4 linked regions of the Homo sapiens genome follow. The protein of the gene in region 2 interacts with the protein of the main gene of each other region in a biochemical or structural test. Each region holds a gene or a part of one and is shown on either strand. Other genes may lie near its edges. The genes, in order: UBQLN4, GJA1, MAPK7 and CSNK1D.

Region 1 (7,000 bases), on a different chromosome or scaffold from region 2:
AAGTAATAGCTCATGAGTAAACCAGGCCCCACTTCCTAAGCTCCATGAGCACCTCTGGTATTATCCAGTGTAAAAGGTTCAGACTGCTGTGGGGAGAGGGGGCTGGAGAGGAATCAAGGCAGACCTGGGGAGAGGCAGATGTGAGGCTGGGGGAAAGGGATGTGCAGGGCTTGCCATGTACAGAAGAACAGGTTATGCACTGCACAACCCTAGAGGATGCTCCATTTATCTGGACTATGACTGTACACATGGCCTGGGGGATGTCTTCAGCAGATGCTCTAATTTCTCTGCACTCTGGGGGATATCTTGATTGGGAAAGTTCCTTCCCTCTGTGTGTTTTAGTTTCCTTATTTGTAAAGTAAGGACTGGAACTTGATCCATGATTTTAAAATTGTGCTCCTGCATCCTGGAAAGGTCTTCATCTCCAGGATGAGGAAGGACCCAATGGGAGAGGCTGCAGCCCTCCTGCCCCAGCTCCAGCCAGACCATTAACACACTTGGTTTCTGAGTGAGATTTAGCATGAGGAAAGGGTCTCTGCTGCTAAGACAAGTTTGATCTAGATGATATTTAATCATTTCTTTCCAAATTGGACATAATTTGAGCTTATGGCAGGAACAGTCCAGAGAGGCATAAATCAGACCCAGTTCCTAGCTGGCTTGTCCTTATCAAGTAAATGGAAAAGGGGCCAGGCCAAAGCAGGGCAAGATGACCTTGGACTTGGGAGAGACTTGGACTCATGCCACAATCCTAGGGTGCCCACTGGACCATTGCTTTTCTGAGTTTTGTAGTCATTCGGTGTCTGAAGTAAGGTAGATTGAAGTGAGGCCTTCGGTTTCCATCTGGACCCTTTCTCTCCTGTTTTCTTTTTTTCCGCCTTGTCCTAGGGATGTTCAATAGCCCAGAAATGCAAGCCCTCCTCCAGCAGATCTCTGAGAACCCCCAGCTGATGCAGAATGTGATCTCAGCACCCTACATGCGCAGCATGATGCAGACGCTTGCCCAGAACCCCGACTTTGCTGCTCAGGTATGAAACCAGCATGAGGAGAGTATTGTTGGGGAGAGAGTTCCTCTTGGTTGGGGGCAGTTTCTTGTGGTCAAAACACTGTGGAGCCAGACTGCCTGGGTTTGCATCCCAAGCTCTGCTGCTTCCCAGCTGTGTGAGTTAAGCAAGTTATTTAGCCTCCCAGTTTCTTTATCTGTAAGATGATAATAACAATAGTTCCTACCTCCTATAGTTGTGAGGATTAAATGAGTTAATACACGTTAAGTGCTTAGAACATGGCGTGTGACAGAGTAAGTTCTGTATACCTGGAAATGTTAGCTGTCCTCATCATCATCAGACCCAGGGCTGAGCAGGCTGACTCCTCATACTCTTCATTACCCAGAGCATAGTTCCATTTCCTCTCACTGTCCCACTTAGGCCTTCAGGATACTTTGAGATCCCCGGAGAAGCTGGCCAGATTTCCTGCAGTGGTAGGGGGTGCCCAGGGAGTCTGAGGCTGTGGGGGAATTCTTAGGGTGAAAAGGCCCAGGTCTCCCCCTGCTACCTTCACCCTGGCAGATGATGGTGAATGTGCCGCTCTTCGCGGGGAACCCCCAACTGCAGGAGCAGCTCCGCCTGCAGCTCCCAGTCTTCCTGCAGCAGGTGAGTGAGGAGCCTAGATGGGTGGAGGTTGAGGGCAAGGGGTAGTCCCTGAAGCCCAATGGGTGGAAATGAAGTTGGGGCAGAGCTTGACTCTGGACTCCTAGTTGAGGTTGTCTCCTCTTTCCTGCCACCTCTTGATGCCTTTCTCTGCTTATTTCCCACCAGATGCAGAACCCAGAGTCACTCTCCATCCTTACCAATCCCCGAGCCATGCAGGCATTGCTGCAGATCCAGCAGGGACTACAGACCTTGCAGACCGAGGCCCCTGGGCTGGTACCCAGGTGAGGGTAGGGGGGCAGGAGGGCAGCAAGGTTCTAGCAACTTCTCCCCTTCAACTCTTCTCTCTGCCACTCTCTCAGCATCCTTTGTGTCTCTGAGGGTCTGTTTTCCTGTTTCTTCCAACTGCTTTTCCTTCTGGATCTCACATTCTCATCCCTTTCTTGGATGCCATCTCCTACCTCTTGGTCTCTCTTGCCTACAGCCTTGGCTCCTTTGGGATATCCCGGACCCCAGCACCCTCAGCAGGCAGCAACGCAGGGTCTACGCCCGAGGCCCCCACTTCCTCACCAGCCACGCCAGCCACATCTTCTCCAACAGGGGCTTCCAGCGCCCAGCAGCAACTCATGCAGCAGATGATCCAGCTTTTGGCTGGAAGTGGAAACTCACAGGTACATGAGGCAGTGGGGGCAGGTGCTGGGAGCACCACTTTGATCCTGGGAGGTTTCAAGGGAAGCAATAGAATAGAGGCAGTAGGGCAAGCTTGGGAGTCAGGTCCTGTTCTGCCACTTGCTAGCCTTGGGCAGGTTACTGATGCTCCCTGAGTTCAGTTTGTGCAGATGTGAAATAGAGATGAGAAGAGTAATGGTACTTACCCGTGCACTACATACTGTTCTAAATGCTTTAGATTTTGGAGCTCATTTACGACTCATTTACCACATTCCTCACAATAGCCTCATGAGAAAGCTATTATTATTATTTCTGTGTTAAAGATGGGGAAAACTGAGGCCCGGAAAGGTTAAGTGGCTTACTCACTTACATAGCTAGTAGATAATGAAGCCAAGACTCAAACCCAGGCATTCCACCTCCAGAATTTACACTATACCATTTCTGCTTATATCAAAGGATCCTTTTGATAATTAAAGCAGCCCCCATCTCTGAGACTCTGGGGAGGGGGATTCTGCGAGGTAACCAAAGCCCTGGGAAAGTCAAGGCCAGGGGCTGGCAGGAGGGGCAGGGATGACCTACCTCGAGTGAGCCTCTTAACCTTTCTCTGACCTCTGTGACTCATCTGGAAAAGCCATTCAACCAAAATGTATGTTTACCCAGCTTTGTGCAAGGCACGAGAGAGCTAAACTAGGTGGTGTCCAGTCCAGGTGCAACCCAAGTTAAATTCTGTGGACTGGCTGGGCGCGGTGGCTCACGCCTGTAATCCCAGCACTTTGGGAGGCTGAGGCGGGCGGATCACGAGGTCAGAAGATCGAGACCATCCTGGCTAACACGGTGAAACCCCATCTCTACTAAAAAATACAAAAAAAAAAAATTAGCCAGGCGTGGTGGCAGGTGCCTGCAGTCCCAGCTACTCAGGAGGCTGACGCAGGAGAATGGGGTGAACTCGGGAGGTGGAGCTTGCAGTGAGCCAAGATGGCGCCACTGCACTCCAGCCTGGGTGACAGAGCGAGACTCCATCTCAAAAAAAAAAAAAAAAAAAAAATGTGTGGACTGTGATAAGAAGCAACAAGGAGCACTGGAAAGGGCTTTCTTTTTTTTTTTTTGAGACAGAGTTTTGCTCTTGTTGCCCAGGCTGGAGTGCAATGGCGCAACCTCTGCCTCCCAGGTTCAAGCCATTCTCCTGCCTCAACCTCCCGAGTAGCTGGGATTACAGGCACGCGCCACCACACCCGGCTAATTTTTTTGTATTGTTAGTAGAGATGGGGTTTCACCATGTTGTCCAGGCTGGTCTCGAACTCCTGACCTTAGGTGATCTGCCTGCCTCGGGCTCCCAAAGTGCTGGGATTATAGGCGTGAGCCACCACACCCGTCCAGAAAGGGCTTTTATACTGCAAGTCAGGGGGCCTTAGTGACTGACTTTCTCTGTGACCCCAGGCAAGTCCTGTCTTTTCTCTGGATCGAACATTGTTCCTTTCAACACCAGGTGGACGGTGCTTGCTGGACTCTTTCTAGCTATAAGAGTCTTTTTTTTTTTTTTTTTTTTTTTTGAGACGGAGTCTCGCTCTGTCGCCCAGGCTGGAGTGCAGTGGCCGGATCTCAGCTCACTGCAAGCTCCGCCTCCTGGGTTTAGGCCATTCTCCTGCCTCAGCCTCCCGAGTAGCTGGGACTAAAGGCGCCCACCACCACGCCCGGCTAATTTTTTGTATTTTTAGTAGAGACGGGGTTTCACCATGTTAGCCAGGATGGTCTCGATCGCCTGACCTCGTGATCCACCTGCCTCGGTCTCCCAAAGTGCTGGGATTACTGGCGTCAGCCACCGCACCCGGCCACTATAAGAGTCTTTTGTTCATAATCAAGGCTTGTGCTTTCCAAATACCCCTTGGGCAAACATTTACAGGAGATAATTAGAGGAATGACAAGAATGAAAAGCCAAGCTAGCCAGGCGGTGGCTCACTTCTGTAATCCCAGCAATTTGGGAGGCCGAGGCAGGCAGATCACCTGAGGTCAGGAGTTCAAGACCAGCCTGACCAACGTGGAGAAACCCCGTCTCTACTAAAAATACAAAATTAGCTGGGTGTCGTGGCGCATGCCTATCATCCCAGCTACTCGAGAGGTTGAGGCAGGAGAGTCACTTGAACCTGGGAGGCAGAGGTTGTAGTGAGCTGAGATCGTGCCATTTTACTCCAGCCTGGGCAACAAGAGTGAAACTCCATCTCAAAAAAAAAAAAAAAAAAAAAAGCCAGGCCAGGAGTGTGGCTCATGCCTGTAATCCCAGTGCTTTGGGAGGCCAAGGCAGGGGACTGCTTGAGGCCAGGAGTTCGAGACCAGCCTGGGCAACGCGGGGAGACCCAGTCTGTAAAAATTTTTTTCTTTTAAAAAAAGTCTTAGTGCAAGCTGGGCATGGTGGCTCATGCCTGTAATCCCAACATTTTGGGAGGCCAAGGCGGGTGTATCACTTGAGGCCAGGAGTTCAAAACCCACCTGGCCAACATGGTGAAACCACGTCTCTACTAAAAATACAAAAATTAGCCGGGCTTGGTGGCATGCACCTGTAATCCCAGCTATTCAGGAGGCTGAGGCAAGAGAATCGCTTCAACCCGGGAGGCAGATCATGCCACTGCATCCAGCCTGGGTGACAGAGCGAGACTCCGTCTCAAAAAAAAAAAAAAAAGAAGAAGACCTAGTGCAGTGGCTCATGCCTGTAATCCCAGCAGTTAGAGAGGCCAAGGCAGGAGGATCACTTGAGACCAGCCTGGGCAACATAGCAAGACCCTTTCTCTGCTAAAAAAATTTTTTTCTTTATTTTTTATTTTATTTTTATTTTTTTGAGATGGAGTCTCACTCTGTCCCCCATGCTGGAGTGTTATGGCACAGTCTCGGCTCACTGCAACCTCCGCCTCCCGGGTTCAAGCGATTCTCCTGCCTCAGCCTCCTGAGTAGCTGAGACTACAGGCTCCTGTCACCATGCCCAACTAAGTTTTGTATCTTTAGTCTCGGGGTATCGCCATGTTGGCCAGTCTGGTCTCGAACTCCTGACCTCAAGTGATCCACCTGCCTCAGCCTCCCAAAGTGCTGGGATTACAGGCATGAGCCACCACGCACTTTTGTTTTTTTAAGATGTACTCTGTCTTCCAGGCTGGAGTGCAGTGGCGCAATTTCAGCTCACTGCACCTCCGCCTCCCGGATTCAAGTGATTCTTCTGCCTCAGCCTCCCAAGTAGTTGGGACTACAGGCATGCGCCACCACACCTGGGTAATTTTTTGTGTTTTTAGTAGACATGGGGTTTCGCCATGTTGGCCAGCCTGGTCTTGAACTCCTGACCTCAGGCAAACTGCCCATCTTGGCCTCCCAAAGTGCTGGGATTATAGGCATGAGCCACTATGCCCAGCCAAAAAAAAATTTTTTTTTAATTGGCTGGGCAAGGTGGTACACACCTGTAGCCCCAGCTACTCAGGAGGCTCAGAGAGAAGGATCACCTGAGCCCAGGAGATAGAGGCTGCAGTGAGCTATGATTCTGCCACTATATTCCAGCCTGGGTGCAAGACCCTGTCTCAAAAAAAAAGGAAATACTTCTCTTTTATAAATAACTGTTGATCAGTGAAACAAAATTAAATAGCTTCTTAACTGGGACCCTTCTCTAGCCTTTCATATGGCTGTACGTGTGATGACTATTAGGAGGGGCCTTGGAGGTCATGCTTAGTATGCATCTTATTTGACCATAGAACATTTGGCTTTTGGAGTGCCTGTTAACATCTCCAGTGTTTATGGAAAGTAATGAGGAATATATGCTGATCTAGGCCTATCAGTTATCTTGAAAATCTAAAAAAGATATCCGCCTGCCATATTATTACACAGTTTTGTTTGTTTGTTTTTTTGTTTTTGTTTTTTGAGACAGAGTCTCGCTCTGTTGCCCAGGCTGGAGTGCAGTGGCGCGATCTCGCCTCACTGCAAGCTCCGCCTCCCGGATTCACGCCATTCTCCTGCCTCAGCCTCCTGAGTAGCTGGGACTACAGGGCGCCCACCACCACACCCAGCGAATTTTTTGTATTTTTAGTAGAGATGGGGTTTCGCCGTGTTAGCCAGGATGGTCTCGATCTTCTGACCTCGTGATCCGCCCGCCTCAGCCTCCTAAAGTGCTGGGATTACAGGCGTGAGCCACCGTACCCGGCCATTACACAGTTATTTAGGACTTGGGACCTAGGCTCCTGGGCCCCCATTTGCAGCTCATCTTCCCTGCCCTCCTGATTGACTCTGAGGATATTAGAGAAGACCTGCTGGTCTTAGAAACCCTTAATTCAAATAGGGCCCCCAAGATTGGTCCTGTGCCCACTTCACAAGGCCTGTCCCCTCCAGGTGCAGACGCCAGAAGTGAGATTTCAGCAGCAGCTGGAGCAGCTCAACTCCATGGGCTTCATCAATCGTGAGGCTAACCTGCAGGCCCTGATTGCCACAGGAGGGGACATCAACGCAGCTATCGAGAGACTGCTGGGCTCCCAGCTCTCCTAATCCCTCGGCCCATGCCTCCTGCCTCTCCCCTCCCTCGATGTCAGCATTCGGTTCTTCTGTCAATCCTTACCCTCTGCAGCTTGTCCTCCCTTCCGTCTTCTCCCTCATCCTTTCCAAACAGCAGGGTGACTTTAGAGGCATGGGCTCCAACCCCTTAGCTCTGTCTGAGAATTATGGTT
Region 2 (4,582 bases):
TTTTTAATAAGGCTGTGAGTAGTATTGAGACAAAATGAACTTTTTACATGAAGTGTGATGTGTATTTAGTCTTTGTTTTTCAAAGTAGGTTACTACATATAATGACACATTGTAGCAAAAGAGTATATTTCCATACAGCCTACTTTTTCTCTGGACAGAAGGCTGACTTCTGAGCTACATAAGTCACTGCTTAAGAAAAAAATAGTCACCATTGCTTGGGAGGCTAAGGCAGGAGGATTTCTTGAGCCCAGGGGCCTGGGCAACATAGTGAAATCCTATCTCTAAAAAAAGAAACAGAAAAGTGTAAATGACAATAATATAGGGTATGCACAAATTACACTTGATATACCATTGAAAAATCTTCCAGAGGCCAGGCGTGGTGGCTCACACCTGTAATCCCAGCACTTTGGGAGGCTGAGGTAGATGGATCACCTGAGGTCAGGAGTTCGAGACCAGCCTGAGCAACATGGAGAAACCTCATCTCTACTAAAAATACAAAATTAGCCAGGCGTGATGGCACATGCCTGTAATCCCAGCTACTTAGGAGGCTGAGGCAGGAGAATCGCTGGAACCTAAGAGGCGGAAGTTGTGGTGAGCTGAGATTGTGCCATTGCACTCCAGCCTGGGCAACAAGAGGGAAACACCATCTTAAAAAAAAAATCTTTCAGAGTGAAATTAGTAATAAAATGATATATAATAGCATTAAGGTTTTGGAAAGAAGGTTATGGATGTGTGTTTATAGGTATTCTTACCTGGATTCTTGATACCTATGCTTTGAATAACACACATCAGGATTTTGCTTAGCAAACACAGATCTACCAGGCAAAAACTGTCCTCATTTATCAGACAAATAAAAGGAGCAGAGGCTTAGCACAGGTGGCTTCTCAAGTCACACAGCAAGGCAGTGGTTGAGCAAGCAATACACCTTCCCAGGTTAAAGACTGCAACTCATCATCTGTTGCTTCTAAGACTTACTTTGTCTCAACAAACAAAACAAAACACTTGTTAGATCTTTTCTTCGTTGGCAAAAATGGGACAGGAAGAGTTTGCACTTGGTTTTTTGTGAAAGAATGTTAGAAATACGTGAAACCGTTGGTAGTATTTTGACTATCACCTGAAAGGTACTAAATGTTAAACTAGTAATTTGCAATCTGTGATCCTTGAATTGTCTCTTTGTTTCTTTCAGGTGGTGCCCAGGCAACATGGGTGACTGGAGCGCCTTAGGCAAACTCCTTGACAAGGTTCAAGCCTACTCAACTGCTGGAGGGAAGGTGTGGCTGTCAGTACTTTTCATTTTCCGAATCCTGCTGCTGGGGACAGCGGTTGAGTCAGCCTGGGGAGATGAGCAGTCTGCCTTTCGTTGTAACACTCAGCAACCTGGTTGTGAAAATGTCTGCTATGACAAGTCTTTCCCAATCTCTCATGTGCGCTTCTGGGTCCTGCAGATCATATTTGTGTCTGTACCCACACTCTTGTACCTGGCTCATGTGTTCTATGTGATGCGAAAGGAAGAGAAACTGAACAAGAAAGAGGAAGAACTCAAGGTTGCCCAAACTGATGGTGTCAATGTGGACATGCACTTGAAGCAGATTGAGATAAAGAAGTTCAAGTACGGTATTGAAGAGCATGGTAAGGTGAAAATGCGAGGGGGGTTGCTGCGAACCTACATCATCAGTATCCTCTTCAAGTCTATCTTTGAGGTGGCCTTCTTGCTGATCCAGTGGTACATCTATGGATTCAGCTTGAGTGCTGTTTACACTTGCAAAAGAGATCCCTGCCCACATCAGGTGGACTGTTTCCTCTCTCGCCCCACGGAGAAAACCATCTTCATCATCTTCATGCTGGTGGTGTCCTTGGTGTCCCTGGCCTTGAATATCATTGAACTCTTCTATGTTTTCTTCAAGGGCGTTAAGGATCGGGTTAAGGGAAAGAGCGACCCTTACCATGCGACCAGTGGTGCGCTGAGCCCTGCCAAAGACTGTGGGTCTCAAAAATATGCTTATTTCAATGGCTGCTCCTCACCAACCGCTCCCCTCTCGCCTATGTCTCCTCCTGGGTACAAGCTGGTTACTGGCGACAGAAACAATTCTTCTTGCCGCAATTACAACAAGCAAGCAAGTGAGCAAAACTGGGCTAATTACAGTGCAGAACAAAATCGAATGGGGCAGGCGGGAAGCACCATCTCTAACTCCCATGCACAGCCTTTTGATTTCCCCGATGATAACCAGAATTCTAAAAAACTAGCTGCTGGACATGAATTACAGCCACTAGCCATTGTGGACCAGCGACCTTCAAGCAGAGCCAGCAGTCGTGCCAGCAGCAGACCTCGGCCTGATGACCTGGAGATCTAGATACAGGCTTGAAAGCATCAAGATTCCACTCAATTGTGGAGAAGAAAAAAGGTGCTGTAGAAAGTGCACCAGGTGTTAATTTTGATCCGGTGGAGGTGGTACTCAACAGCCTTATTCATGAGGCTTAGAAAACACAAAGACATTAGAATACCTAGGTTCACTGGGGGTGTATGGGGTAGATGGGTGGAGAGGGAGGGGATAAGAGAGGTGCATGTTGGTATTTAAAGTAGTGGATTCAAAGAACTTAGATTATAAATAAGAGTTCCATTAGGTGATACATAGATAAGGGCTTTTTCTCCCCGCAAACACCCCTAAGAATGGTTCTGTGTATGTGAATGAGCGGGTGGTAATTGTGGCTAAATATTTTTGTTTTACCAAGAAACTGAAATAATTCTGGCCAGGAATAAATACTTCCTGAACATCTTAGGTCTTTTCAACAAGAAAAAGACAGAGGATTGTCCTTAAGTCCCTGCTAAAACATTCCATTGTTAAAATTTGCACTTTGAAGGTAAGCTTTCTAGGCCTGACCCTCCAGGTGTCAATGGACTTGTGCTACTATATTTTTTTATTCTTGGTATCAGTTTAAAATTCAGACAAGGCCCACAGAATAAGATTTTCCATGCATTTGCAAATACGTATATTCTTTTTCCATCCACTTGCACAATATCATTACCATCACTTTTTCATCATTCCTCAGCTACTACTCACATTCATTTAATGGTTTCTGTAAACATTTTTAAGACAGTTGGGATGTCACTTAACATTTTTTTTTTGAGCTAAAGTCAGGGAATCAAGCCATGCTTAATATTTAACAATCACTTATATGTGTGTCGAAGAGTTTGTTTTGTTTGTCATGTATTGGTACAAGCAGATACAGTATAAACTCACAAACACAGATTTGAAAATAATGCACATATGGTGTTCAAATTTGAACCTTTCTCATGGATTTTTGTGGTGTGGGCCAATATGGTGTTTACATTATATAATTCCTGCTGTGGCAAGTAAAGCACACTTTTTTTTTCTCCTAAAATGTTTTTCCCTGTGTATCCTATTATGGATACTGGTTTTGTTAATTATGATTCTTTATTTTCTCTCCTTTTTTTAGGATATAGCAGTAATGCTATTACTGAAATGAATTTCCTTTTTCTGAAATGTAATCATTGATGCTTGAATGATAGAATTTTAGTACTGTAAACAGGCTTTAGTCATTAATGTGAGAGACTTAGAAAAAATGCTTAGAGTGGACTATTAAATGTGCCTAAATGAATTTTGCAGTAACTGGTATTCTTGGGTTTTCCTACTTAATACACAGTAATTCAGAACTTGTATTCTATTATGAGTTTAGCAGTCTTTTGGAGTGACCAGCAACTTTGATGTTTGCACTAAGATTTTATTTGGAATGCAAGAGAGGTTGAAAGAGGATTCAGTAGTACACATACAACTAATTTATTTGAACTATATGTTGAAGACATCTACCAGTTTCTCCAAATGCCTTTTTTAAAACTCATCACAGAAGATTGGTGAAAATGCTGAGTATGACACTTTTCTTCTTGCATGCATGTCAGCTACATAAACAGTTTTGTACAATGAAAATTACTAATTTGTTTGACATTCCATGTTAAACTACGGTCATGTTCAGCTTCATTGCATGTAATGTAGACCTAGTCCATCAGATCATGTGTTCTGGAGAGTGTTCTTTATTCAATAAAGTTTTAATTTAGTATAAACATAGCTTCTATATTCCGTGTGATTTGTTTCCCCTGCCGAGATGGAGTCTTGCTCTGTCACCCAGGCTGGAGTGCAGTGGCGCGATCTCGTCTCACTGCAACCCTTGCCTCCCGGGTTCAAGCAATTCTCCTGCCTCACCCTCCCGAATAGCTGGGATTACAGGCACCGCCACCGCACCTGGCTAATTTTTGTATTTTTAGTAGAGATGGGGTTTCACCATGTTGGCCAGGCTGGTCTGGAACTCCTGACCTCGTGATCCGCCCACCTCAGCCTCCCAAAGTGTTGGGATTACAGGGGTGAGCCACCGCACCTGGCCTATATTTAAAACTCATTGACGGCATCTATTTGAGATTATTTAAACACATTTCTATTGGTTATCAGAACTTCAGCAAATAACAGTCATGTTTTCAGGGACAATATTTATCATTAGCTCTGTTCAGTGCAACATAAATTGTAAACATTTTTGGATATTTATTGAACCAAAAGGAAGATAAAGTGTTGAA
Region 3 (2,633 bases), on a different chromosome or scaffold from region 2:
CCAGCCTTCTCTACAGCCTGTGGCTAGTGAGCCTGGCTGTCCAGATGTTGAAATGCCCAGTCCCTGGGCTCCCAGTGGGGACTGTGCCATGGAGTCTCCACCACCAGCCCCGCCACCATGCCCCGGCCCTGCACCTGACACCATTGATCTGACCCTGCAGCCACCTCCACCAGTCAGTGAGCCTGCCCCACCAAAGAAAGATGGTGCCATCTCAGACAATACTAAGGCTGCCCTTAAAGCTGCCCTGCTCAAGTCTTTGAGGAGCCGGCTCAGAGGTGCCTTGTGGGCAGGTCGGGTGGGCAGAGGGGAGACTTGGACTTGGACAAGGCTTCAGGCTTTTACCTTCTCCCCTGCCCAACTTCCCCGCAGATGGCCCCAGCGCACCCCTGGAGGCTCCTGAGCCTCGGAAGCCGGTGACAGCCCAGGAGCGCCAGCGGGAGCGGGAGGAGAAGCGGCGGAGGCGGCAAGAACGAGCCAAGGAGCGGGAGAAACGGCGGCAGGAGCGGGAGCGAAAGGAACGGGGGGCTGGGGCCTCTGGGGGCCCCTCCACTGACCCCTTGGCTGGACTAGTGCTCAGTGACAATGACAGAAGCCTGTTGGAACGCTGGACTCGAATGGCCCGGCCCGCAGCCCCAGCCCTCACCTCTGTGCCGGCCCCTGCCCCAGCGCCAACGCCAACCCCAACCCCAGTCCAACCTACCAGTCCTCCTCCTGGCCCTGTAGCCCAGCCCACTGGCCCGCAACCACAATCTGCGGGCTCTACCTCTGGCCCTGTACCCCAGCCTGCCTGCCCACCCCCTGGCCCTGCACCCCACCCCACTGGCCCTCCTGGGCCCATCCCTGTCCCCGCGCCACCCCAGATTGCCACCTCCACCAGCCTCCTGGCTGCCCAGTCACTTGTGCCACCCCCTGGGCTGCCTGGCTCCAGCACCCCAGGAGTTTTGCCTTACTTCCCACCTGGCCTGCCGCCCCCAGACGCCGGGGGAGCCCCTCAGTCTTCCATGTCAGAGTCACCTGATGTCAACCTTGTGACCCAGCAGCTATCTAAGTCACAGGTGAGAGGGAGGCCCAGGCCATGGGGACACCTGGGTCTGGGCCAAAGGAAAATGGGTTCAGGAAGCGGTCAGTGTTCCACAAAAACTGAGCAGCAGATGGGGCTTTATCTCTGAACGTGTCCTCTTGCTCACAGAAGGAGCATAATGGCAATGAAGAGGTTGTTAGGAGACAAGTTAAATATGGCCTGCAAAGTGCCTAGCCCAGAGATGGGGCCAGCCAGCACTCACTGACTGCCGAGACTGGTGTTAGCACTCCCAGATATCCAGGCGGAGTAGTCAGCAGCATTGGGACAGGGTGGCCTACAGACCTCAGTCTGTCTGCATTGTAACCTGTCATTCCCTGCAGGTGGAGGACCCCCTGCCCCCTGTGTTCTCAGGCACACCAAAGGGCAGTGGGGCTGGCTACGGTGTTGGCTTTGACCTGGAGGAATTCTTAAACCAGTCTTTCGACATGGGCGTGGCTGATGGGCCACAGGATGGGTAAGGTGGCTGGACTGAGCTCCTAGACTGGGACTGTGGGGAGAGGTTCCTGGTGCAGGAGACATGCACCTGTGGGATGGGTGAGGGTCCAGCCTAGGCTAATAGCACCCCTCCCTTTCCTTCCCCTGCAGCCAGGCAGATTCAGCCTCTCTCTCAGCCTCCCTGCTTGCTGACTGGCTCGAAGGCCATGGCATGAACCCTGCCGATATTGAGTCCCTGCAGCGTGAGATCCAGATGGACTCCCCAATGCTGCTGGCTGACCTGCCTGACCTCCAGGACCCCTGAGGCCCCCAGCCTGTGCCTTGCTGCCACAGTAGACCTAGTTCCAGGATCCATGGGAGCATTCTCAAAGGCTTTAGCCCTGGACCCAGCAGGTGAGGCTCGGCTTGGATTATTCTGCAGGTTCATCTCAGACCCACCTTTCAGCCTTAAGCAGCCACCTGAGCCACCACCGAGCCATGGCAGGATCGGGAGACCCCAACTCCCCCTGAACAATCCTTTTCAGTATTATATTTTTATTATTATTATGTTATTATTACACTGTCTTTTTGCCATCAAAATGAGGCCTGTGAAATACAAGGTTCCCTTCTGCACCTGACTCCAGGTGTAATTTTTGGAGTTCGGGGTAGGACACCATCAGCAGGGGAGCAAGGAGGAGCCAGGTGCCTACATTTGGGGGATAAACAAATATGTTTGTGTGTATGAAGCCAGTTCATTCAGGTTCTGAAGGTTTATTGAGACCTTCAGTCCCTACCCACTCCCAGCCCTGCAGAGATTGTCCTCTGCTCCCTCATGTGGCTAAACCTCTCAACACCCAGAGGGTATGGGGAAGACCTCATATGCATGCCTACCTTGGCTGTGGCTGTTTCAGGGTGGTGTGCGGTAGCTGTGTTCTTGGCATAGAGCTTCAGGGGCTGGGATGGGCCATCAGGGGAAGCTGAGTATGATAGTGAGGTGGGCTGGGGTTCCACGGTACTCACCACAGGGGAGTAAGTTGGTGGGAGGGATGCTGAAGATGGGACATGGTTTGAGAGCAGCCCAGAGGAGTGCTGGGCTGTGGCCTAGAATACACCATGGGCCCTGTTCACACTGCACTGC
Region 4 (7,688 bases), on a different chromosome or scaffold from region 2:
GACCCACGCTTCTTTCAAACTGCCTTACTCCGGCTAACGTGACCACCTCGCCTTTCCTCCGTGGGGTCGTCTGAAAGGACCACAGTGTAGGCTAGGAGCCAATGCTGATGGGAAAAAAAAAAATCAGCTGTGCCTAACCCCACTCAAGTAACTGGACGTGTACCCTGATGGGTGGCTGTCTGGGACGGCTGTCTGGGGGCTCCAACCCCAGGGTGTCAGAGCCACAGCCGCCCGCAATCCCGTATCCAGCATGACTGTATGCCCAGCGCGAGGTGAGGCCTGGAGGGTAGAATGCTGAGTGAGGAGACAGCCTTCCACCCTCCACCTCTGGAATTACTTGGTGACAACCACACCAAAATTTGTCTTAATCTATCTTTGGAAAGCACAAAGTTGTTTGACAAGGTCTCAGATCAGAGAACAGATAGTTTCAAAGTACTTCTTATTTATTTATTTTTTGAGACAGAGTCTCACTCCATCGCCCAGGCTGCAGTGCAGTGGTGTGATCTTGGCTCACTGCAACCTCCGCCTCCCAGGTTCAAGCAATTCTCGTGCCTCAGCCTCCCAAGTAGCTGGAATTACAGGCAGCCACCACCACGCCTGGCCAATTTTTGTATTTTTAGTAGAGATGGGGTTTCGCCACTTTGGCCAGGCTGGTCTCCTGACCTCAAGCGACCCGCCCACCTCAGCTTCCCAAAGTGCTGGGATTACAGGCGTGAGCCACCACACCCGGCCCAAAATACTCCTTTTTGATGCCTGCCTAAAGGTGGCTAATGGACTGGCTTTGCAGTGTAACTCAGATCCTGGGGTTAAAACTTTCGCCAAAATCCATTGTTCTATAAATAAGCCAAACGACTTCCATTGACCAAGCACTCTGACTTCCCAAACACTGCCAAGAACACATCCAGCTGACCACCTGGTATAAATGTTTAATAGCCAAACCCAAATGTCTAAAGCCTGCTTACTCAGCAGTCCACTAAGGCATATGTACAGGTTCAAAAGCAACAATATGGCATGTGACAGGGTCACCTGGCAGGTTAACCAGGCACCGAAAGTATGAGCCACCCATATGTGTGGATTCGTCCTAACGCTGTCAGCCCACCGGGTCCTGAGTCCTCTCTCTGGTGACAAGTGGGAAGGGTGTGAGAACTGGAGACTGTCCACATGTGGCTTCATCTAAAAGGTATGACCAGAGGCATTACTGACATCCCAGGGGATTCCTGACCCTAGCTGACAGGTGCCCCAGTTAAAACACACCCCAAAGCTAGGGCTGCTGGAACAGAAAACAGCTCCCCTCAAAGGTCTGCAGCAGCCCCTCTGCAGGCACACCGCCTCAGGCTACATATCCTCAAATTCAGGGGATCTTGGAATAACTCGTGCATTGCACAATCCCACTAACAAGTGCGGAAAATTAAGTTACTTTAAAATTACAAACTTGGGCCAGGCGCGGTGGCTTCCCAGCACTTCGGGAGGCCGAACTGGGCGGATCACTTGAGGTCCGGAGTTCGAGACCAGCCTTGACCAACATGAAGAAACCCCGTCTCTACTAAAAATACGAAATTAGCCAGGCGTGGTGGCGCACGCCTGTGATCCCAGCTTTTCGGGAGGCTGAGGCAGGAGAATCGCTTGAACCTGGGAGGCAGAGGTTGCGGTGAGCCGAGATCACGCCATTGCACTCCAACCTGGGCAACAAGAGCGAAACTCCGTCTCAGGAAAAAAAAAAAAATTACAAACTTGAAGATTTAAGCCAACCTTTCATCACACTTGTGTTCACGTGCATATTTTTCCATTGTAAATATGACACAACCCAAAACCTTCTAATCCCATTGTTTTTGAAATCTACCTTGAGACTGTTACAGTCTAAAGGACACCTCATGAGTACAACTACCTCATCTGCCTCTCATCTTGCCAGCATCTTAATCCTGTGTGACTTTCTCTACATTCACCTAAACTTAACCCTTGCTCATTTGCACTCAGTCACCGCTCCAAGGCCAAGGGGAACCGTTCAGAGAGAACCCCCAGCGGGAGGGCAAGCCCCACTCCTAGCCGGGCCACTCCCCCGCTCCACACGGCATTTGGGTCTTTCTGACATTTTCCCCCACGAATGCAAGACACCGGGGCAGCCTCTGAGGGGGCAGCCAGACAGCCCCGGACCGGGCTGCGGAAGAAAGAGCGTGGCCTTTGTTTACTGCGGTGACCTTAGGCGTAGAGGAAGCCGACGCCCGCTTCGCGGCCCCAGCCCTACCCCCTCCCCTCCCACGGCCCGCTGCCCCCACCCCCGCCCTGCCCCTCCCCCAGGCCCGCCTCCCCACGCCCCACCCAGCCCTTCCCGAGTCCGCTCCCCACGACCCTGCCCCTACCCAGGTCGGCTCCCCAGAGACCATGCCCCACCCCGGGTCAGCTCCCCTATCCCCTCCTTCCCCAACCCTCCCCTCTCCAGACCCTGCTCCCCCGACCTGGTCCTGCCCCTCCCCCACGTCCGCTCCCCACTGCCCTCCCCACCCCTGGCCGCGCTAGCCTAGTGGCCGTTGGGTTCTGGCCACGATCCGGCGGTGCCGGGACTTGCGCGGAGACCCCGCGGGGGCCACCACTTCCTTCCGCGATCGCGCTTGGTCTTGGCAGCCGCAGGGCCCGGGTCTTCGGGCGGCGGGCGGGGGCGGCGGGGCCTCACCGAGATAGATGTCTCCGAAGGAGCCGCTGCCGATCTTCCGGCCCAGCCGGTACCTGTTCCCGACTCTCAGCTCCATGGCGGCGGCGGCCCGATTCGCTCCTGCCCTCCCGGCCGCTTCCTGGGTCTGAACTCTGGGAGGCGGCGCCGCTGCTGCCGCTACTGCGGGTCCGGCTCCCGGCTCCGCCCCCCTCACGGCCCCGCTTTCACCATCGCTTTCCTGTCGCCCCGCCGCTCCCAGCGCCTCAATACGGGGCGGATGGGACAGTCCGAGCGCCGCCGCCGCTGCTCCGGCCCCTACCGGTCCCGCTTGCCCTCTCCCCGCCGCGGATGGACTCGGATCTTCCGGGCCTAAATCCCCTTTCAGCTGCCTAAAGGAGCCGCCGCCATCGCGCTGTGACGTCACTTCCCCTAGCAACCCGGCGGGGCGGGGCCGCGGCGCTCCAGGGGCGGGGCCGGGCGGGGCGAGCGCTCCAGGCCTCCTCCCGACCCTGCGCCGTGCCCAGCCCCTCTGCCCTCCTGTTACCCCGGGACCTCGGGCCGCCAGCCCCTTCCACGTGCAGGCTCCTGCTGCTCTCGCGGGGGCTTTTCGTGTGTCCCCCGAGATGTCGAGGAAGCCAGGTGAGTTCCTCGCGACAGGCGGTGCCCTTTGCAGGAGGGGACAGGTAGCTGAGGCGTGGACAGAGTGACAGGCCAGGCTCAGGGGACACAGGTGAGACCCCCTCACTGGGCTGCCAGTTCCCGGGCTTGGGGCATCCCAGTACGTCAGCGTCTGCGGCCTTACCTCCTGACACCTAAGGCCAGAGACAGAGCAGGCCCGCGCCCTGGGAGGTCCTGATGTCCAGCCTGAAGATTGAGGACAAAGCCACCACCTTTCACAAAATGAGGCCAGACCACCTGCCTCCCTCCAGTCCCTGCGGCCTGGAGACGGAGTCAACATTCTTATCTGTGTTGGATCTGAATGTTCCTCCTTGCAAAGGAAACAAGGAGTGGACGTTCAGGCTGATGGCCAGCTTCAAAGATCGGGGCCTTTGATTCCCATCACTGGGAAGAAAGCCCTTCAGACAAGCCCCCCCAGGCTGCAGGTGCATGGGGACCTTGAAGAACCCGTCCCCATGGTCCCACGTCCATGTGTCTCGAGACCTGTCGCATCCTCGCTGAAACTCAAGAATGTGAAACAGGTGAAGGTGTGTTTTGACGCATTAGCATACCAGGGCTGTGGTGTGGGCACCGCCGTGTGAGTGAGACAGCAGCCTCAGCCCGTCCAGGTCACTGCAGAAGAGGAAAGCAGCCCCCACAGGCCCCACAGTGGTGCTCGCCTTTCTCCACCCCCCAGTCTTTCCTCTCCACCCCTCAGCTCCAAACAGCTGGAGGTCAGGTCGGGGAGACGGGCGTCCATTCCCGAAATTACATAGCAGGGCCTGGAGACAGGAGATGCCGCCGGCCAGACCACCATCAGTCACTAATGAGGGATGGGCAGTCGGAACTGCCCAGTTTCTGAGTTACAGAAGCCGGGGGTGGGGGGCTGCCAGACTAGTAAAACTGACCTTGTTGGCGGAATCGCTCACGGCTTTTCTGTTGATGAACAGAGTCCAGCTCTCCCACGGGTGGCTGTGATCCTTCTTCCTGGGGAGTCCTGCTGTCCCTGACTAGGGGCACCTGCCCACCTGTCAGCTGCTCCTCCCTCGGCTGGTCCTCCTGGGCTCTGATGGCCCCAACATTTCTAGCTCTTCTCACCCATAGTGCCCCAAGCTTCATGCAGCTGCGGCAGGTACTGTGCCCGTCTGCCTGGCTTTTGTGTGTTTGTGTCTTGACTCTATAACCCGTGCACACGGACTGGGCTGTGGTGTAGTGGGGATGGCAGGAGCCCTGGGAACATGCGGGCTGGGCAAGGTGAGGCAGGCTGATTGCTGTGGCTCCCCCACCACCAGCCCCAGCCACAACAAACTGACAAAGGAAGAGGACAGTGGTACCCTGGAGCCCTGGGGTCAGAGAGAGGAGGACAAAGCAGGTGTGTAGCCCAGGGAATGACAGCACCCCTTCCGAGAAGACAGGGAGGGTGCAGACATGGCCAGGTTCTGAGCTAGAAAACTGTCAGCAGGGGGCTGAAGCTGAGGATAGTCATTGCCAAGGAACAGCCTCCGTCACAGAGGAGACGCACAGATGCGGTGACGAGGGAGGGATGCGGGGCTGGTGACCGCTGGGAACGGATGTGTGAGGCAGAGTCTCCAGGCATGGTCTGTGGGGCGGTTTGATGATACTAGAACATCTCAGAGTAGAAGGACGTCCCGACCTGCAGACTGGAAAGCCCCCAGAGCTCCCGGCAGGACGTATGAGGGCCAGCCCACACCCAGGTCTGTCCTGATACAACTGAACGCCACAGTGTCTTAGCTCCTTTACTGTTGCTATCAAGAAACACCTGAGGCTGGGAAATTTATGAAGAATCATGAGGTAATTTGTATATTTGTCCACACTAAACCTCATGTTGAATTGTAAACCCCAAGGCTGGAGGTGGCTGGGTCATGGGGGTGGATTTCTCAGGAATGTTTAGTACCATCCCCTTGGTGCTGTCCTTGAGATAGTGAGTTCTCCTGAGATCTGGTTATTTAAAAAGTGTGGGGCACCTCTCTCTCTCGCTCACTCGCTCGCTCGCTCCTGCTCTGGCCATGTGACGTGCCCGCTCCCCCATTGCCTTTCACCATGATTGGAAGCTTCCGGAGGCCTCCCCAGAAGCTGAGCAGAGGCCAGCACCATGCCTCCTGTAAAGCCTGCAGAACCAGGAGCCAAGTAAACCTCTTTTCATTATTTATTTATTTATTTATTTATTTATTTTGACACAGGGTCTCGCTCTGTTGCCCAGGCTGGAGTGCAGTGGCGTGATCTCGGCTCACTGCAACCTCTGCCTCCTGGGCTCAGGTGATCCTCCCACCTCACCCTCCTGAGTAGCTGGGACTACAGGCACACGCCACCATACCTGGCTAATTTTTCATATTTTTTGTAGACATGGGGTCTTACTGGCCCAGACTGGTCTCAAACTTCTGAGCTCAAGTGATCCATCCACCTTGGCCTTCCAGAGTGCTGGGATCACACGCATGAGCTACCATGCCGGCCCTCTTTTCTTTTAAAATTGCCCAGTCCTAAGTATTTCTTTATAGCAAGGCAACCACAGCCTAACACAGCTCACGATGCTGAGGTCTCAAAAGTTCAAGATCGGGCGTCTGCCTCTAGTGAGGGCCTTGCTGCCGCTGCCTCCACTCATGGCAGAAGGTGAAGGGCAGCTGGAGTGTGTGCAGACCGTGTGCGAGAGGGAGCTGGAGGAGTAGGGAAGTACAGGCCTTTTTTTTTTTTTTTAAGATGGAGTCTCGCTCTGTTGCCCAGGCTGGAGCGCAGTGGCGCAATGCCGGCTCACTGCAACCTCCGCCTCCCGGGTTCAAGCGATTCTCCTGCCTCAGCCTGCTGAGTAGCTGGGATTAGAGGCATGCGCCACTATGCCCGGCTAATTTTTGTATTTTTGTAGAGACGGGGTTTCACCATGTTGGTCAGGCTGATCTTGAACTTCTGACCTCGTGATCCGCCCGCCTTAGCCTCCCAAAGTGCTGAGATTATAGGCATGAGGCACCGTGCCGGCCGTGCAGGTGTTTTTAAAAGCACCTCTTGCTGGAACTAGTAGGAGTGAAAACTCACTCATTACTAAGAGGACAGCACCAAACTGTTCGTGAGGAATCTGCCCCCATGACCCAGACACCTCCAACACTGGGGCTCAGATTTCAACCTGAGGTTTGAAGGGGACCAACACCCAAACTATAGAAACAGAGAAAGAGGAAAGTTTACAGATACCCATTTAGAAAGAATCTGCTAACAAAGGGAAAGAATCAGGCTGGGCGCGGTGGTTTATGCCTGGAATCCCAACACTTTGAGAGGCCAAGGTGGGTGGATCACCTGAGGTCAGGAGTTTGAGACCAGCCTGGCCAGCATGTGAAACCCTGTCTCTACTAAAAATGCAAACATTAGCCAGGCGTAGTGACGTGCACCTGTAGTCCCAGCTACCCAGGAGGCCAGGCAAGAGAATTGCTGGAGTTCATGAGACAGAGGTTGCAGTGAGCAGAGATCCTGCCACTGCACTCCAGCCCAGGCAACAAGAGCGAGACTGTGTCTCAAAAACAAACAAACAACAACAACAAAAGGAAAGAATCAGACTGGCTTGGGACTCTGCTGTCCCCTGCCCGTGACCTCCCAAAAGCGTGTGTTAGAGACTGACCTGCCTAGTGCGTCAGTGGAGGGGGCACTTTGGAGAGGGGCTTGGATCGTGAGGCCCCGCCCTCGTGAATGGCTCAGTGCCTTGTGAAAGGGCTTGATGGAGGGAGTTTGGTCCCTTTTCCCCTTTTGTCTCTCTGCTGTGTGAGGACACCATGTTCCTCCCCTCTGGAGGATGCTGTAACAAGCTGTCATCTCGGGAGGAGACACCAGGCCCTGACCAGACGCTGAACATGCCAGCACCTTCATCTTGGACTTTCCAGCCCCCAGAACTGTGAGAAATAAATTTCTGTTCTTTATAAGTACCTAGTCCATGGTGTTTTGTTACAGCAGCATGAACAGACTGAGATAGCGGCTTACATGTAACCGGAAGCTGCAGAAAAACATCTTCAGACAGCTGAGACGGCTCCCAGGACTCGTGCCTGGCACAGACACCATCTGCCTGGCAGGGCAAAGAAAGGCGTCTGTGAGTGTGGGAGGATTCCGAGTCTAACACCCTGAGCCCAGCCAGGAAGGGGCCAGGAAGGCCTCCTCGTGAACAACGAATGAAACAGATCCCAGATCTCAGACAGGGCGGGGAAGGGGAGGGGTACCATGTCAAGCAGCACTCTGTGTAAGTCGGCACCTGCGCACACTTGCATGCAGACGTGTGTATTGTGAGTGTATGGACATGTTAGAAATGGATGTGTGCATGTGTCTGCATGTGTTTGTGCATTTATGCACAGACACTACACGGGCATGCACATCATGTACGTATATGTTTGCATAT

The links.
Region 1: the proteins of GJA1 (region 2) and UBQLN4 form a complex in vitro, tested with the Homo sapiens proteins (one study listed by BioGRID).
Region 3: of the proteins of GJA1 (region 2) and MAPK7, one has a biochemical effect on the other in vitro, tested with the Homo sapiens proteins (one study listed by BioGRID).
Region 4: of the proteins of GJA1 (region 2) and CSNK1D, one has a biochemical effect on the other in vitro, tested with the Homo sapiens proteins (one study listed by BioGRID).

The regions. Positions count from the first base shown.
Region 1 is NC_000001.11:156,036,799-156,043,798, reverse strand, and holds part of UBQLN4 (ubiquilin-4), read left to right. Parts: intron 1-885; coding exon 886-1,025; intron 1,026-1,421; coding exon of another isoform or gene 1,422-1,439; exon of another isoform or gene 1,440-1,546; intron 1,547-1,562; coding exon 1,563-1,646; intron 1,647-1,811; coding exon 1,812-1,927; intron 1,928-2,127; coding exon 2,128-2,314; intron 2,315-6,668; coding exon 6,669-6,821; 3' UTR 6,822-7,000. UniProt on the Homo sapiens protein: Regulator of protein degradation that mediates the proteasomal targeting of misfolded, mislocalized or accumulated proteins.
Region 2 is NC_000006.12:121,445,646-121,450,227, forward strand, and holds the end of GJA1 (gap junction alpha-1 protein), read left to right. Parts: intron 1-1,186; 5' UTR 1,187-1,202; coding exon 1,203-2,351; 3' UTR 2,352-4,082; downstream 4,083-4,582. UniProt on the Homo sapiens protein: Gap junction protein that acts as a regulator of bladder capacity. A gap junction consists of a cluster of closely packed pairs of transmembrane channels, the connexons, through which materials of low MW diffuse from one cell to a neighboring cell.
Region 3 is NC_000017.11:19,381,412-19,384,044, forward strand, and holds the end of MAPK7 (mitogen-activated protein kinase 7), read left to right. Parts: coding exon 1-275; intron 276-369; coding exon 370-1,055; intron 1,056-1,401; coding exon 1,402-1,535; coding exon of another isoform or gene 1,536-1,539; intron 1,540-1,666; coding exon 1,667-1,820; 3' UTR 1,821-2,133; downstream 2,134-2,633. UniProt on the Homo sapiens protein: Plays a role in various cellular processes such as proliferation, differentiation and cell survival. The upstream activator of MAPK7 is the MAPK kinase MAP2K5.
Region 4 is NC_000017.11:82,270,638-82,278,325, forward strand, and holds the start of CSNK1D (casein kinase I isoform delta), read right to left. Parts: upstream 3,064-7,688; 5' UTR 2,745-3,063; coding exon 2,669-2,744; intron 1,466-2,668; exon of another isoform or gene 1-1,465. UniProt on the Homo sapiens protein: Essential serine/threonine-protein kinase that regulates diverse cellular growth and survival processes including Wnt signaling, DNA repair and circadian rhythms. It can phosphorylate a large number of proteins.